Linked DNA regions of Homo sapiens: region 1 is linked to region 2. Evidence: fine-mapped expression QTL. A gene starts in region 2. The other region holds a variant in brackets. All regions are shown on one strand. Distances are between the middles of the regions. Region 1 has its middle 130 kb from the start of SLC35F4. Region 2 holds the start of ARMH4 (armadillo like helical domain containing 4).

What was found. PIP is the estimated chance that this variant, and not a neighbour inherited with it, causes the effect.
Region 1: its variant is fine-mapped to the expression of ARMH4 in esophagus muscle (GTEx, PIP 0.93).

The regions. Positions count from the first base shown.
Region 1 is chr14:57,991,259-58,000,350 of GRCh38, reverse strand. No RefSeq gene overlaps it. Among named protein-coding and RNA genes, the nearest start is that of SLC35F4, 130 kb to the right of the region's middle. The variant T/C (reference allele first, on the strand shown) is at 4,894.
Region 2 is chr14:58,148,835-58,157,926 of GRCh38, reverse strand. It overlaps ARMH4 (armadillo like helical domain containing 4), which reads left to right and starts at 5,714. Exons shown (of 8, transcript NM_001001872.4): 1 at 5,714-5,852. RefSeq lists silencers at 5,520-5,589, 5,482-5,776, 5,670-5,889, 5,990-6,179.

The DNA.
Region 1 (9,092 bases), 160 kb after region 2:
AGAAGGCTGGGATGGAGAGAAAAGGGTTTCTCCCATACCCCTGATGTCTTTTTCTCTAATTAGAAAAGACAGTGCTTTTCTTTCCAACCTCTTTAGTTTTTTCTTTCCCATAAGCTGTTTCTTTCAGTAGCTGCTAGCTTAATTTATATGCAATATTTGGAGTTAATTAGTATCCCAGGGTAACAGATTCCCTTAGCGATGCCTTAGCTGTGCCTTCAGCTGATAAACTGCCTCAAATACAATTTTCCAGAAACACTTTCTTAAAGTACCTGTATCTCTTAACATAGGTCAAAACTGTATGAAGAAATTTTAAAGCCAAGTTTTAGAACACATTTAAAGTAATTTTTGAAGAGTCAATTAAAAGTGGTTTTTCATTTTATGATTTTTTTCCCCAAATGCTAAGCGTTAAAAGCCAAAACATTTTATATAGGTATCCGAAAATTACATAGAGTGCATGGAGCATACTGAATACCTCGCTCTTCCTTCTGTGTCTGCCTCCAGGTGTCTTCTTCCTGTAGAAGTCCAAATGAAACACCTTATTTCCAATCACAGCCACAACCTGGGGGAGAAGAATCAAATCCTCCACAGGGATTGTGATTTCTGCAGATATGAATAATCCATGTTCCTACCAGCTGCCAAAAAAACAGCTTTTGGAAACAAGATGTACTATTTGGCGCAAGGTTATAGCTACGTGACATTTTGGCAAGACAGGCTTTTTTATGACCACAGAGGAATTTGAAGAGGCAGGAACACAACTGAAAAAAAATCTCTTCCCTTTATGGTATGTGAAGGTGTGGTTTCAAGCAAAGAAATATGGTAGAAGAAGATGGAGGAAAATCATAATGCAAGGCAAATATAAAAATGGCACAAAACATTAGAAAGTGCTGGAGGATGCCAAAGTTCTGAATGGACCAATGCTTGAAAAAATATAGAGAAAAGCAAGGAGAAGAATACAAATGAGGAAGATCATTAACAGGAGAAGGGACCATAAAGCTACACAAATCCATTTTGCCTCCACCTTCTCCATCAAATAATATTATCTCATAGTAGTTAGAATGAACATAGCTGGGGGTGGGGAACTGAAGTCCAAGATGGATGAGGAGGTAAAAGGTGCTTGGTTACTTTAAATGAGCTTAAGCTCAGTTAGATATCTTCTTTAATTGCACAGTCTTCAAATGACTGAATATAAACTTCTAGGAATAGGAAATAATTTGAAAGCAAAATAATGGTACTGACTTAGTAAAAGTCCCACATGTGCACATTTAGCACTCCTAGACTGATAAGCTGAAGATGAGCTGTGGAGAGATGTTGCCCTGATAATTATAGACTGGCAGTTAACATAGCTGGAAACATAATCCTGTTGCTTAATTTCTGCATGCAGAAAAAAACCCCAGCATTTATTTTGCAAGCCGCTGTAATACAAATGCACTGGGAGTGTCCTATTTGGGGTAATAGGTATATCTAACTCCCTTTTAATTAACCCAAATTTCTACCATGTGCATATAGGATAAAGAGAAGGAAGGAAGGAAGGAAGGAAGGAAGGAAGTAATTAAGGAATTCCCTCAGTAAGTAGCAGCAAAAGCACAAAGAAACAAGTCATTTGCTCCCATGTTCTAGTTTGTGTAAAAGCACAAAAAAATTGATGTAAAAAAACTTACATATTCCACCTAGTAAAGCAAATATCCTACTTTCTCTTTTCAAGAAGCAGCAGGAAAAGATCACTTATGTAAGTGATAACCATCAACAATTTGTAATATAGAGTATAAATTCTTCAGATGGATGTTGCTGAGAGGTGTAACCTTTTGTGGGTTAAGGATGGAGGAACTGAGGAGTAGAAACAGAAGAATTATCTGTGGGGGGAAAATCCTGTTATCTTTTTTCTCAAAGTGTATAGGTATAGGAATGGAGTGCAAGCAAAGTTGCAGGCAAAGTGGGCATCCACTTGGATTATTTTATTACCTTTAAGGTGGGTAGATCATCTGCTCTAGTCTCAAAAGAATAAACCTGGCATCAGTTCAGGAAACTGAGGTTTTTATTAACCAGTGTCATGTCCATCTCAATATTCTCTTCCTAATTAGCAGTCAAATAAAGGAAGGGACCAAAAGCATTTGAATCATTTCTCTAATTTTATGTCTCATGACATGGCCACAGCATTTGTGTAGTTCAGACTTCTTCATGACCAGACAGACTAAAGTAGGAAATTATAAGTAGTCTTCCAAAAAGGAATTTTGATACAAAACCTTCAATGGTCATTTTCCTTTATTTCCCTCTTTATGTAAGAGGTAAAGGAGGAGGAATAGGAAATGGTTTTGTGGTTGAACCAATCGAATCCCAAAGATTTGATTGGTTCTTTGCCGAGGAGGGTGAGGATGGCTAGAGACTCTATCTTCAGCAAACCAAGAACACTTGATATTGCTTCTGACTGAATCAGTATTTATTGAATGCCTTTTATGTGTCAGGTAATATGTTAAGTGTTGGGGGAGCCAAGACACAGTCCATGACTGGAAAGGGCTTATGGATTAGTAGGGAAGACAGAAAATGGGCAATTTCATATCAGAGACACTGGGATCCAGAAAAGGAATATCTAACTGGGTCAAGAAGATCAGGGATGCTTCTCCAGAGCAGGTAACATCAAACCTAAGGCCAGGAGGATGAGTGGGGTTATTCAGATAAAGGGGAGAAGGGGATATGTGATCTAGCCAGAGAAACCCCATGTGCAAAGGCCAGGGGTGAGAGATCAAGTAGTTAGCCTGGCTGGGGTGCTAGGTATTCTAGGGGAGTGAGAGTTGGGGTTGAGGGTAGTATGCTATGTGAAATACGGGGCTGAATGGGAAGGATCCTCTAGGTCCTGTCAAGGAATGAGGACTTTATTTGAGGGCAATTAGAAGTCATGCAAAAATATTATGCTGTGAAGTGTTATGATCAGGCCTGAGTTAATAGGAAGACTGGTTTGGGAAGGTTAAAGTCTGGAGTCAGAGACACCAGTGAAGGTCAAGGTTGATGCAGCAATGTAAGTGAGAGATAATCATGGCCTGGACCAAGGTTGCAGAAATGAACATGGAAGGGGAGAATGGGTTCTGGCGGTGTTCAGCAGGGGTAGACAGTGGGACTTGCAGATTGTTTAGATGGAGAGATGAGGGAAAAGACAACATTTAAAGCTGACTAGGGTCATGGGACTTTTGAGGCTTCTAGATACGATGGTCTAGTGTTCTGCCTTCTGGAGGGGCTGACCCTGTATTATCCCAGCATATCTAGGCCTGAGAAAAATAACCTACAAGCCTGCCAGAAATGTATAGGCAGCATTAATTTTTACAAAGTGTAAATGTGTGGTCATTTTCTGTGACTTCTTTTGTTTACTTTTTTTGAGACAGGGTCTTACTCTGTCACTCAGGCTATAGTGCAATGGTGCAATCATGGCTTACTGCAGCCTCAAACTCTTGGGCTTAAGTGATCCTTCCCCCTTAACTTCCTGAGTAGCTAGGACTACAGATGTGTGTCAGCACTCTCAGCTATTTTTTTTTTTTTTATTTTTTGTAGAGACAGGGTCTCACTATGTTGCCCAGGCTGGTCTCGAACGCCTGGGCTCAAGCTATGCTGCCTCAGCCTCCTGAGCTGTTGGAATTACAGGCATGAGCCACTGCACCTCGCCATTTTCTGTTACTTTTAATAGTAGGTACCAGTGAACTAACTTTGCATTTAATGAAACTTAAATATCTGGGAAAATTCTCCTAATACCTTTAGGGGATTACTTTGGTTGATCCCTAGATATGAGTTACTATCTCAGATCTGTTTGACTGTCTTGATTTGTAAAGGCTAATAGGAGAGTTTCTTATTCTTTGACAAGGGAACAAAGCTCAATATCTTGTTTTTCTTGAAAACAAATCCAAGAAACTTTTTTCTCAGGGCTGGTATGTATGAGGACAACATCTGGTCTTAGATGTGCAGCCTGCAGAATCAAGCAATGCAGCTCTGTGTCCTGGTGCTGAGCAGTTTCTGTGGCCTTTTGACAGTTCTTACGGGCAATCGTCAAGCCACTTACCTTCCTTAGCATATAAAAAATAAAGCAAGTTTCCCATAGTTGCCATATCAGCACAAGGCCAGATTCTGGAGGGCCTCAGGGACAATGATATGCAGAATTGAGAAAATTCAGAAAAACTTAAGAATAATTATCATTCCAGTCCCACCCGAAATGTTAACAATAATAAACATTGGTAACATTTTGGTCTGTACTTTTCTAATCTTTTTTTTCCTATGCATTTATGATATGCAATAAATACTTTTATTTTTATACAAAATCAGGATTATAATTTACATAGTATTTTGTTACCTCTCTGTAGCTATGTTTTCCCATGGTTGTTTTAAGAGGAATAGAAGAAAGGAAAACAGCTTGTGAAAATCCTAAGTTGTATTTGAACGAGCAAGCTGTGTTTCCTCATTAAAACATTTATTTCGCATTTGATGGTCCATAACTGCCCATTTACCTCAGGATGCCTCCATAGGATGAAAATAAGAACAGAGTTGAAAGAAGTCTCCATAAACACAACGCACATTGGCAAATGTCATATTCTTGTTCCTTAAGGGATTAGAGAACACTTTCTTCTCTTTGTCTTTGCCCCCAAAGTAAAAGCTATAAGCTTTTATAATTAAATAATAAGACTGAATAACCATAAGCGCAATTAATATGTAGTATTATGAGAAATACTGGGGAAAAGGACACTTACTGTGTGACTTAAATTGATTAAAGGGTTATTCAGTTCAACTCTCTTGAATCTAATTAGTATTTTTGTGTCATTTATTATTATAGGGCACACATTTTTTACATTTGATTTAACTTGACTAAAATTAAATGAGCAAATGTTTATTGCTATGTCCATTGTTTTCCTTTCTCTGTCA[T/C]TGTTAAAAAGAGGAGCCATGGCTTCTGCTTCTTCTGTGTATTCTCCATTAGACCTTCTTCATCCACCCTCTTCCCCATCCCTTTCAGCTCTGAAGGGTCTATAAATGAAAGTGGGTACCAACTGATTCAATAGGACTTATATCTTACTAAATAACGTTTTATTGTCTTTGTTCTATGTATTTGCAGAGAAATTGTAAGTATCTTTAAAACCAATTAACAAAGCCCTGTGGGTCTTTCAATCAAGACCTTTGTAAACATCTCTACTAGCCCATACTCCCCCAAACTTCTTGCACATGGTAGAAGATGACATTAAATAAAGCACATTATAAGGTGCAATGAGCTTTATTCTAAAAATATTGTCTGGATGTGAAAGTAAGTTCTTGTTCATAAAATGTTATTAGTAAAATGTTATTAGATTAAAATTATGGAGTAAGCATTTGGCAAACTGATTGACTCTTCACTGGAAAGACCAGGCTTTTTAGCACACATTTCTGTTCATGCTTAAGGTCAGAAGTCAATCAAAGGCAACCAGAAAAAAAAAAGGCAAATAAATGAATTAGGGACATAATTATTTTCTGTTATAAATAATCAGGATCTTTTCAAGTTTAATTATGGGGAGTTGTTGAATAGGCTAGTTTTATGCCATGCAAATAAAATGTGAATTTCAAAAATCTTAGTGAAACTCAAATTTATTTTTACTTAGCGATAATAAAATCACAAATACTTCTTGAGCTCTTGCTGTAGGCCAAGTGCTGTGCTCAGTACTTAACATGGATAAACTCGATTGAGTATCACAATTCAAAGAGGTAGGCACTCCAGGTTACCCTTGACTCTGCTGATGGCAGAAACCTCACTTGTAATAAATAATTATCTTTGACAAGAGAAACATAAAACAAGACCTGTAATAAATGATTTGTTCACAGATTTTTCATGTCATAGAAACTATATAGCATTGATTTTTAGCTATGATTTTGATTCAGTTTTTAAAGTATTTAATTTTTATTATATCAGCCCACACTGAACATTGGTTTTTCAGCAGATAATGCATCTTCCAAGTGCTCCAAGGCGAAGAGCCGCAGAGAAGAATACTGCATCTTGAGTCATACCCTGAAATTACTGAATGAATTACCTGTGGCCATGTAAACACTCTGCTTCAGTAGGTAGAGTGCAACAGACAATCCAATCATTCAGAACTAAGTTTTTAGTTAGCTTCTGTTATTCACTGAAGTAGTTTGCAATTACAGTTGTCTCTAGGTATCCATGGGGGATTGGTTCCAGAACTCCCTGCTGATAACAAAATTCATGGATGCTCAAGCGCCTTACATAACTTGGTGTAGTATTTGCGAATAACCTATGCACATCCTCAAGTATACTTTATATCATCTCTAAACATATAATACTTAATATGTAAATGCTATGTAATTAGTTGTTATTACTGTATTTAGTGAATAATGACAAGAAAAAAAAGTGTGTACCTGTTTAGTACAGACACTACTCTGTACTGATTTTTTTTTCTGAGTATTTTCCATCCAGGGTTGGTTGAATCCACAGATGTGTAACTCACAAATATGAAGGGCTGACGGTACCTAGTAGTTAATTCAGATTTATCGCAGTGATCTAAAGTAATTTTGCAGTTTACAAGCATTTTTTTTTGGTTCTAAAAGAAAAAAACAAAACGAATATTGGTGATGTGATATTTATGTAATGTGATGATATTATAATGGCCACGTTTTAAAACTTGAGAATGTCCTAAGTTCACACACTGTTGGTTTCTAGATCCACAAGGCTTCTGTATACAGTTCACGGTCCTCGGCATTGCTTCTTGTAATTTTTCCATCCCAAAGGAGAGCTACTGTACTGACTGTACTTGTGGAATGCAGCGCTTCATTAAATTAAGTTTATTAAAATGCAATGTGTGGCACAAGACCTGTTCCTTGTTTAAAGATTTAGTAGAAGGTGGTTTCTTTGGATGCACTCTTCATTTATTTCAATGAACGCAAAATGCATTGTATCAAGAGACGTTTCTGCAAAGGGCAGTAAAAAATAAGAAAAACAACCATGAAGAAGAAAACAACTATGAATAAACCAATTCTATGGGGGATTGTTTTTGTGCTTCTCAAAGTGTGTGTGTGTGTGTGTGTGTGTGTGTGTGTGTTGGAAGGTGGGTAGAAGGTGGGGGGGATGGGTGTCTGTGTATGAGAGAGAGAGAAAGAGAGAGAGCGAGTGCACTAAGTGAATATATCCTTATGGTCTAAACTGGGATACAATTGAGAGTGAAAGGGGCACAGCTGGGTGCGCTGGCTCACATGGATCACTTGAGTCCAGGAGTTTGAGTCCAGCCTGGGCAATGTAGGGAGACCCTGTGTCTACCAAAAATTAAAAATTAGCCAGATGTGGTGATGTGCCTCTGTGGACCCAGATACTTGGGAGGTTAAGATGGGATGATCACTTGAGCCTGGGAGGTCAAGGCTGCAGTGAGCCATGATCATGCCACTGCACTCCAGCCTGGGTGATGGAATGAGACCTTATCTCAAAAACAAAAAAGTGGGGACACTGTTAATTACAATGGGATAACAGGCATAAACTGGAATGATCCTGGGAAAATAGGAACCTAAGGGACATCTTAGAGGGAGTGTATCAGACACCTCTTAGAGGAAGTGTAACAGACACTTCAAATCCTATCTTTTATTCCAGTCACCTAAGTAGCATTTAGTTTGGCACAGGCTTCCACCAGTTTGCCAGGGTGTGGGTTATTGTGGGGTTTCACTTGTCACTCACACATGTACAACCTGGAAATGTTAGGGGGGCTAACCTGGTGGGCCTTAACGAATGAGGATGGAAACTGATGGATAAATCCTCCCACCATTTGTTGCTCATGTGGCCGGTTCTCAGATACGTTTCATGAGGCTTCTCAGAATAGTCCTTAGGATTGAGCACTGGTTGTCCATTGCAATGCTACCTTGAAAATTCATCCTTGTATTGGCCTTCTCTCTTTCCTTGTTTCACTGCTACTTGCATGCAAGACTTTGTCTGAGGTCCTGCTTTCAGGGGAACTCAGGCTACAATAATTGGGATTTTGGAGTGAGATCACTCACTGTTCAGAGGTAATAAGGACTCCATTTTTGGAGGTGGGTGGAGTGGTGGTATCTGGCCAGCGCCATCTCAGTTACTAAGACTCTTACTGAGGTGGATTGGGATGAGGTGCAGGCAGAGGCAGAGCATTGGGTGGTGTGATAGCCGTGGTCCTTAAATAGTACAGGAGCAATGGTAATAACAAGGATTGAGCTGGCTGGTGTGTTTAGACTGCTTTGGAGGCTTTGAAAAAAGCAAATGAAGAAAATGACAGGCTCAGGTTTGTTAATTAGCAACATAAGGCATGTCATGAAAGCCAGAGGATCTGTATGGAAGTGTATCAGGAGACTCACATTGGTGGATTGTGCTGTCATTCTCACACTCAAGGTCACCCTCCAAGCAAGCAATCTAGATCAGGCAAGATGTTAATGAGCCTACATCAGGCAAGGGTGAGAAAAGTCTAAAGTGGATAGTGGAGGAGGGAGATGAAGAATATTATGATCTTGGGATCAGCTGGAACAGTAGAACTGGAACTTGTTCCACTAACCCTCTTGAATTAAGTCTTTGCAGAGACTATGGCTGGCCACCACCATGAAAGGGATTCTCTGATAGACTGAATTTAAAGAAGGGCACAAAAAACAAGCACAAGAAATGGATTGTACCTCCCTGTACACCACTCCAGATCCTCTTGCTCATGCCACTATTGTGTTTACCAGGTCTGTGCAGGTGTCAATCAGCTTTTGCATGGGTGCAGCCTGATAGAGACTAGCCTTGTGCTGTGGCTTTCTCACTTCTCTGACGCTGGACTGTCCTGACACCATGCCTTGGGAAGCACGTCAATACTAAGGCATGCACAGTTCAGAAGTACGAGGGAGTTGATATCTGTGAGGCCACCCTTGTCCATCAAGGGGGATGAGGATTGATGAATAACTGCTCTCTTTTCCTCTTTCAGGCAGACAGTTTTGAGTTGCGATTTATCAAGTTTCTCAGAAATCCTGTTGGAGCCAGTCACTTGTAACAGTGGCCACCTTGATAATGCATCCTCACTAATCCTTTCCCTCCTTCACTGTTCCCAGCTCCATCCTATACTCCTGGTCCCTGAGATCACATTTCCAAACAAACTACT
Region 2 (9,092 bases):
GCAAGAACCCTTATGAAGTGGCACTTACCTCGGTCAAGTCAGCTCTGCTCAAGGCCTTGTTCTTAACTTTGCAAGATCAGAAACCCAATTTTTATGGGCGTGAATAGATGTGTTAGGAACAGACTCAAACAATTCACTCACATAATACAGAATAACAATTTTATAGAGGTCAAGCAGACAGAAATGTTCGTATCAGCAGAGACCCACGTGCCATGTACATGGGACTTGGTACGTGGGAATCAAACTAATGACAATTAGTTACCATACTGAGAAGCATTTCTTCCCAACTGAGTGACAGCCTCTCCAAGGACACCATAATGCTTACATCTGCATTGCCAAGGCTCTTCCCTCTGTGTGGTATTTGAATGGGTATCGTTCACTTCTGGCTCTTGGTGGTTGGTTATCCTGTTCTTTGCTAAACTTGACCAGTTCCTCTGTGACACAAAAACTTTCTACTAACCAGGACCAACTAATTGCCTAAAACTGAGAGGGCTACTAGATGAAATGCAGGATGCCCAGTTAAACTGGAATTTCAGATAAATCACAAATAATGTTTCAGTACTGTCTGTCCCATTCTTTTAATATTTGGGACACACTTTTGCTAAAAATTGTTTGTGGTTTATCTGAAATTCAAATTTAACTGGGAATCATCTATTTTTATTTGCTAAATCTGGCAACCTTAAAACTGCCTTCCTAAGTTTCCTTGCTTATTACCTTGATTGGAGGTTTTTTTGTTTTTGTTTTTGTTTTTTTTTTTTGAGATGGAGTTTCGCTCTTGGCCCAGGCTGGAGTGCAATGGCGCAATCTCAGCTCACCGTGAACTCTGCCTCCCAGGTTCAAGTGATTCTCCTGCTTCAGCCTCCCGAGTAGCTGGGATTACAGGCATGTGCCACCATACCCGGCTAATTTTGTATTTTTAGTAGAGACAGGGTTTCTCCATGTTGATCAGGCTGGTCTCGAACTCCCAACCTCAGGTGATCTGCCCACCTCAGCCTTCCAAAGTTCTGAGATTACAGGTGTGAGCCACCGCACCTGGCCTGATTGGAGTTTTTATTATTCCCAAGCTCTAAACCTCCCCCTCACACCCGCCCCCCGCCACCGCCCCATAGTTTCTTGCTTTACCTGTAAAAGGTTAATAACATTCATTGTATGTGGATTTACTTATTTGGCTTGCACAGTACAACTTTCCTTAACCCACAATTTGTGTGTGTGTGTGTTGAGGGAAGAGAAGAGTAAATCTTATGACCACTGCCATGTATCAACAGCAGATGTTGAGATAAATTGTATAAACCAGAGTTGTTGAAAGCAGTACAAACCATTTTTGGAAGGATACAGGACTAGTATAAATGAGTTCCAATAAGATCACTTTACTTTTACTGCACATCTGAAATAATTTATATTGAGGAAATGGGAGACAGGAATTTTGCTATGAGAGAAGGGTAATTTTGAAGAATGGAAAATTTTGAGTCTAACTCAGGTCTGGAACTAGAATTCTGTACTTGGAACTTAGATTATCATGTGGCTACTGAGTCTCTAAGAAGAGTAGGATGTTAGAAAGGGATACTGAAAAGGAGGCAGGAAGATGTCAAAGAAACTTTGAATGTCTTGGCCGGGCGCGATGGCTCACGCCTGTAATCCCAGCACTTTGGGAGGCCGAGGTGGGTGGATCACGAGGTCAGGAGATCGAGACCATCCTGGCTAACACGGTGAAACCCCGTCTCTACTAAAAATACAAAAAATTAGCCAGGAGTAGGTGGCAGGCGCCTGTGGTCCCAGCTACTTGGGAGGCTGAGGCAGGAGAATGGCGTGAACTCGGGAGGCGGAGCTTGCAGCGAGCTGAGATTGCGCCACTGCACTCCAGCCTGGGCGACACAGCAAGACTCTGTCTCAAAAAAAAAAAAAAAAAAAAAGAAGAAACTTTGAATGTCTCAGATTTGTGTGTAAATGTGAGGAGAACTGGAATTCCTTCCTCTTGCTGTCTCTCTTCTGCCTGGCCATCTGGTTAGAACACCCAGAATTCAGGTTAGTTTTTTTTTAGTACTATTATTTACCTGTATTTGGGTTGAGTAGACTTAATATTGTGGGCTAGCTAGTAGCCCCGCCATACTATATAACATTGTTTTTACAAGAAGATGTGGTCTGAGTTTCAAACAACTGACTTAAAAATAAAATGCTGAAATACAACGTGGTCAGGCTGGGTGTGGCTCATCCACCTGGTGGGTACTGAATCCAGGTAGAAGACCTGGCCACAGTGCAATGTATTGCACTGAATACATACAAAAAGCAGATCTCAGGCCAGGTGTGGTTGCTGACACCTATGATCCCAGCATTTTGGGAGGTCAAGGCAGGCAGATAACTTGAGTGCAGGAGTTCAATACCAGCCTGGACAACATGGCAAAACCTCGTCTCTACAAAAAATTAAAAAAAAAAAAAAGCTTGGTGTGGTGGTATACGCCTGTGCTCCCAGCTACTCAGGAGGCTGAGGTGGGAGGATTGCTTGAGCCTGGGGAGGTCGAGGCTGCAATGAGCAGTGATTGGGCCACTGAATTCCAGCTTGAGTGACAGAGCATGACCCTGTCTAAAAACAAACAAACAAACTTCATAGATTCAATTCAATCCAATCACATTCTGGAAGTACCTTATGTACCCATAATAATGTTTCAGTCAACCACAAACTGCGTATAAAATGATGGTCCCATAAGATCATGATGAAGCTGAAAAGTTTCTATCACTTAGTGACATGGTAGCCATCGGAATATCCTAGCACGATGCAACATAATGCATTACTCTCCTTTGTGTGGTGATGCTGGTGTAAACAAACCTACCATACTGCCGGTCATATAAAATTACAGCACATACAATAATGTACAGTAAATACTTGATAATAATAAATGTCTATGCTACTCTGGCTTATGTGTTTACTGTACTGTACTTTTTATCATTAGATTATACTACTTCTACTTGTATATAAAAATGTTAACTGTAAAACAGCATCAGGCAGGTCCTTCAGGAGGTATTGCAGAAGAAGGCCTTGTTATCACAGGAGATGACTGTTCTATGTGTGTTATAGCCCCTGAAGCAGGACAAGATGTGGAGGTGAAAGATGGTGATAATGATCCTGACTCTTTATGGGCCCAGGCTAATGTGTGTGTTTCTGTTTTGTTTTTTAACCAAAAAGTTTAATTTTTTTTTGAGACAGAGTCTTGCTCTGTTGCCCAGGCTGGAGTGCAGTGGTACGATCTTGGCTCACTGCAACCTCCGCCTCCCAGGTTCAAGCGATCCTGCTGCCTCAGCCCCCCTAATAGCTGGGATTACAGGCACGCACCACCATGTCTGGCTAATTTTTGTATTTTTAGTAGAGACAGGGTTTTGCAATGTTGGCCAGGTTGGTCTCGAACTCCTGACCTCAGGTGATCCACCCGCCTCAGCCTACCAAAGTGCTGATATTACAGACATGACCCACCTGGCCTTTTAAAATTTTGTTTTTTAAATAGAAAAAGGCTTATAGAATAAGGAAATAAAGAAATGAAATATTTTTGAACAGCTGTACAATATGTTTGTGTTTTAAGCTGTGTTATTACAAAAGAGTCAAAAGTTACCCAGCCGTGGTGGCATGTGCCCGTAGTCCCAACTACTGGGGAGGCTGAGGCAGGAGGATTGCTTGAGGTTAGGAGGTCCAGGCTGCAGTGAACTGTGATTGTACCACTGGACTCCAGCCTGGGTGACAGAGTGAGACCCTGTCTCAAAGAAAAAAAGAGTCAAAAGTTAAAAAAAATTTATAAAGTAAAAAATTCAGGTAAGCTATGGTTAATTTATTATTGAAGAAAAAATGTTTATGTCTACAGTACAGCCTAAGTGTACATTGTTTACACTACAGTAGTAGTGTAGCATACAGTTATAGCCTACATAACTACAGTAGTGTAGTTATGTACAATAGTATACAGTTATGTCAGTAGTGTAAGGTTACGTACATTACAGTAGTGTACAGTTATGTCCTAGGTCTTCATATTCTCACTCATCATTCGTTGACTCACCCAGAGCAACTTCCAGTCCTATAAGCTCCATTTATGGTAAGTGCTCTATACAGATGCACCATTTTTTATCTTTTATACTGTATTTTTACTGTATTGTTTCAATGTTTAGATATAGAAATACCATTGTGTTACAATTGCCTACAGTACTGAGTACAGTAACATGCTGTACAGGCTTGTAGCCTAGGAGCAATAGGCTATACCATATAGCCTTGGTACGTAGTAGGCTATGCCATCTAGGTTTGTGTAAGTATACTATTATGCTCGCATAACAACAAAATTGCCTAAGGATACATTTCTTAGAATGTATTCCCCTAATTAATCAATGCATGATTATACATAGATAATAATTTCTAAAGGGAGGGGGAATGGGTAACAGTGCATACCTGCTGGGCACCGTGGCACATGTCTATAATTCAAACACTTCGGTAGACCGAGGCAGGAGGATCGCTTGAGTCCAGGAGTTTGAAACTAGCCAGGGCAAGATAGGAAGACCCCATCTTTACCAATAATAATAATAATAATAATAATAATAATAATAATAATAATAATAAAAAATTAGCCAGTCGTGGTGCCGCATGCCTGTGGTCCCAGCTACTTAGGAGGCTGAGGTGGGTGATGGCTTGAGGTCCCAGGAGGAGGTCGAGGCTGCAGTGAGCCATGATGGCGCCACTGCACTCCAGCCTGGGGGAAAGAGTGAGATCCTGTCTCAAAAACAAACAAACAAACAAACAGAAACCAGTACATACCTGTGCATTGTGTTAGGTGTGGGGGTCAAAGGTGAGCCAGCTTTTGCTCTGACTTCAAGGTGTTTATAATTAACTACAAAAGGGGACTAAGGTATTATGAAGAAGGGAGCTAATAAGCACAATAAGGGACAAATGTGAAGAGTGCTCTGCAAATGTAAAATGCTGCGTTGTGGAGGTTGTTCCAAAACGGGCCTTTAGATTCCGACACCTCTTTCCACACCATTAGAAGTAACAGAAAAAGAAAACAGTCCTTGAGAGGCTCAAGAATGGAGGACACAAATTCCCGGTGGCCACGCGAGCCGGATGACCTTGGAGAAGTTACACAGCCCTTAGCCTTAACCTCCTACCCTGGTAAATGAGAACTACAATATCTACCCTTCTATCGTGCAGATTAAGCAGGTAAAGTAATGGGCAAAGCATCTACTCTTGTGCCTGGCAGGAGTAAGGGCTCAATAAACCTTACTTGTGACTAGCACTAGTTTGCAACTTCTCCGACGGACTGAGAAGGGACATTCTGTGTAGAGTTACTTTAAGGGTCCTACTTAAGGGCACCGCCAAGCCGTCCATAGTTTCCACAAGGAACACTGCAGTCTCAGATTTGCGCTCCTTGCCTGAACCAAAGACAGCAAAATTGAGGTTTTTCTCGTGTAAACGGTGCCCTGGTCTCTTCCGCGTAGATAGGGAGGCGAGCTGCCGCAGAAGCTCCCGCTTAAAGAGGGGAAGCGGAGCACGGGATCTCCGAGGGGTCCCAGGTGCCGGGACTCCAGCAGAAGCCGCCCCCGCGGGAGAGCGGAGGCGGGGAAGTGGGCGCAGGGGGGCGTGGGCGACGGCGTCGGCTGTCAGTGCCAGCAGAGCCAGGGCGGGCACACCTACTCACCGCCCAATCCCCGGCCGTAGCCGCGGCCTTATGAATAAGCAACAAAGCGAAGCGCCCTCCCCCTAGCGTCCCAGACAGCGGAGGGAGTCGCCGCCGCTACCGCCGCCGCCGCCGCAGGGCCCGCCGCTGGGATGCCGAGCGCCCGCGCCGCCGCTGCCTCTGTCCTCCGCGCGCTGCTCAGCTGAAGGCGCACAGGTGAGGACGGGCCCGGCTCCGGCCACTTGGGCGGCCGCGGCTGCAGACGTGGCGCCGGGGCAGGGACGGAACCGGAGCCTCAGTGGCGTGGGGTCGCTCCGCGAGCGTAACAGTCCCGGGAGCGTTGCAGCCCTGGGTGCGCCAGGCGTGCGCCCCGATCCTCCTCCGGAGCGCGGTGCCCAGGTGTGGGGTGCGCGGGGGCAGCTCTGGGCGCGCTGGGCGCGGCGCGCAGGCCTCGGAGGACTCACCGCACTCCTAGCTCCAGCCCAGCCTCCCAGCTCCGCACCAGCGAGCCGGCCTTTGTGCTGGCGGAGCTTGCAGGGCTGGCTGCTTTTGTGTGGGCTTTTCTTTCTCTTTCTCCCTCCGCTCGCAATCCCACAGCAGTGAGAGAGAAGTTCCCGAAAACAACGGTTTACTCCTTTCAAACCGTCGATCGCAGTGTCCCCAATGCCACTCAGAGCCTAACAATCGAGGAGCGAATCGTTGCTGCGGTCACCACCGAAATATGTCCTGCCACTTTGCAGAAAACAAACAGTTGAGTGTTTAGCGCAGAGATGTCGAGCCTCCTTGCTCAGCCCCTGACTCGTCCCCCAGGACGCGGCTGGAGGACGCTCCTTGGAAAGGTCACTTAATTAGAAAGAGGGCCTGCGGGTTAGACCTGGGGGAGGCGAGGCTCTGCTTGAGACTCCGGAATAGTTGGGAGGTGCTGCCGGAGGTGCCCAAATGTCTCATGTGCCTCGTGGTCACTGACAGAATCTGACTTGTGTAGATTCCAAACATGTAGAACCTTGGCTGGCGAGGAGGCAAGCAGGAGTGAACAAAACAGGACCCTTAAGAGTTTGGGTTCTCAAAGATGAGATGATCCCGAGGATCCGCCTAGCACTTGGCATCCAATTTCAGTGCAGAACTGATGTGGAAGAGAGGAGAGATGGCTGCTTTAAAGTGTCTGCCTTCTTTCTTTGGAAGTTTTAGTTTGAAACTTGAGGGGGAGTGGGGAGTGGTTCACAAAACCATCCCTAGGGTTCTGAAGGATCTCTTCTCCAAAGGGCAAAAATTCTTGAGTGGTCAGAATTCACATGCCTTCTCTTTATTTTGGTGTATTTCCTTGATCACAAGTGATGCTGTTGGGCTCCAGGGAGTCTCCTTTTAGCCAAGCATCTACAGTCATTGACTGACTTCGGCACGTATGCCAGTAGAACCCCACAGTAGCATCTATTGAAACACACAACCGGCTAAGGTTTCACAGTATCAGAACATTGCTTCTTTTACACACAGAGGTTTAAAGGTACTCTGACTTGCTCTTATGAATAAAGTGGTTTTTTTTTTGTATTTGTCACAATAATGAACCGAGCACTTGTGCAGCAGACAGATTTGATATTAGTTGAGTTTATTCATAGAAACTCCCAAGGCTCACCAAGTCTAAGGTAGCTACAGCAACGGAGCCAATTAGAGAGATGTGAATTTGTCTTTGTTTTCATGGGAGGCTTCTTACTACATATTCCGGAGTTTCCTGCCAGACCTTTACAATATTATAATTTGGTATTACGGAAATGGTTCGATGCTAAATATAAGTGTAGAATCAAAATGAGGAAAACGGGTTTATCTGCTGTGGAAAATGTCCACTCCCCACCTAAAGGTGTCCTTTGCCCTTTATTCTGTAGATGTTTGTCTGAAAAGTGGTGTATGGAATTGTATTTTTGTTAATTGAACTTAAAAAACTTCTCACATAGGGAAGCTGTCTATGCAGAGGGAAACTGCTTTTAATTTTTGTAAAATGAAAACTCATTCCCTAAGCAAGATGTGAGGTCAATCTTATTTTTCCATATTGTGTTTACTTGGTGATTATAAGAGAAGTATCTGAAGCTAGTTTCAGCTTCCCTTTAAATGTCAGCTACTTAGAGATCTAGCCAAGCAAATGGCTACATTTGTGTACCACAAAAACCAGAAATGATATGTCCAATTGGGTCACTGAAATAAACTGTCTGATGGATGGAGAAGAGTTTGTTGATCAAGATTCATCAGGATAGGATTCTGCAGACAGCAGAACCCTCTCAGGTCACATTGTCTACATGATAAAGCTGAAAGGAGAAGCTCCATGAAAGTACCTTGGGGAAAAAAATGCTACTCCATTTGTGGCTGATGTTACAGATGCTCCAAATTGCTCACATTTCTGTATTTGACAGGAATGCATGTCAGTAGCATGCTAGTATGTCTTCTATTGCATGATAATTTACTTTTGTTTCAAACTGCTTTTATGTCTATTATCACTTTTGTGTGTGTTCTCCACCCTTTGAAAAAATATAACCAGCATTATTATTTCTACTTTGCAACAAGAAAACTTGAGTTTCAGTGATTTGCCTAAGGTAGAACTGGAACTCGAAGAAGCCTGTTTTTAAATCTTCAAGTCCATCTCCTTTTACCAGGGATGAGATGATATGCTAGGGGTGATAAGCACGGATATCTTCATTTGTCTACATCACTAATTTGTAGAGACTGAAGCTCCTGGGCTCAGTATGTAGAACTTAGGTGTGGTCTTCAGGGATGGTAAAGTACTTTTTACTGGTATTTAGTTTCCAGTAATTTAGCTATTTTGACCCCAGCCTACTTACCCTCTTCCCTGCCAGCTCTGGGGCTGCTTTCCTCCTGGGGGACCATGCTTTTCTTTGTGGTTACTTACTCCTTCTCCCTCCTTCCATTGTGATGGAACATGCTGCTGAAAGGATTGTTTGTCATTCAGCTATTTAATTTATGGTGAAGTATAGCTGCAGCCTAGATCCTAAAGCCAATATAACAGACCAGTGATGATTGTCAGTAGCACAGTGAATCAGAAACGTGGTACCTTAATGCCATTTGCCACAGCTGGGTTAATAGAGTGAGAGTCTTTATAAGCTCAGCTTTAAGTAAATACAATAGTATTGGCAATAAAATAGTGTTGGCAGTAACAGCCTTAAGGATTTAAAAAAAGAAAAAGTAAGACAATGATAAATTAATCATTGAGGAATGGTCATGAAAAGGACAAAGTGGAAAGATTGTTAAGACACAAAATGGAAAGATTATTAAGACACAAAGATTATTAAGACACTATCCCCCTCATCAGAGAATCACTAATTGTATTTCAAAAGGTGAGATGGTATTTGGCAAGCATGTTGACTTGACGCTGTGAGACTTGTTACCTGTAACTGTTGGTCTGTTGCGTGTGTGTGTGTGTGTGTGTGTGTGTGTGTGTGTAATAAACTCTGA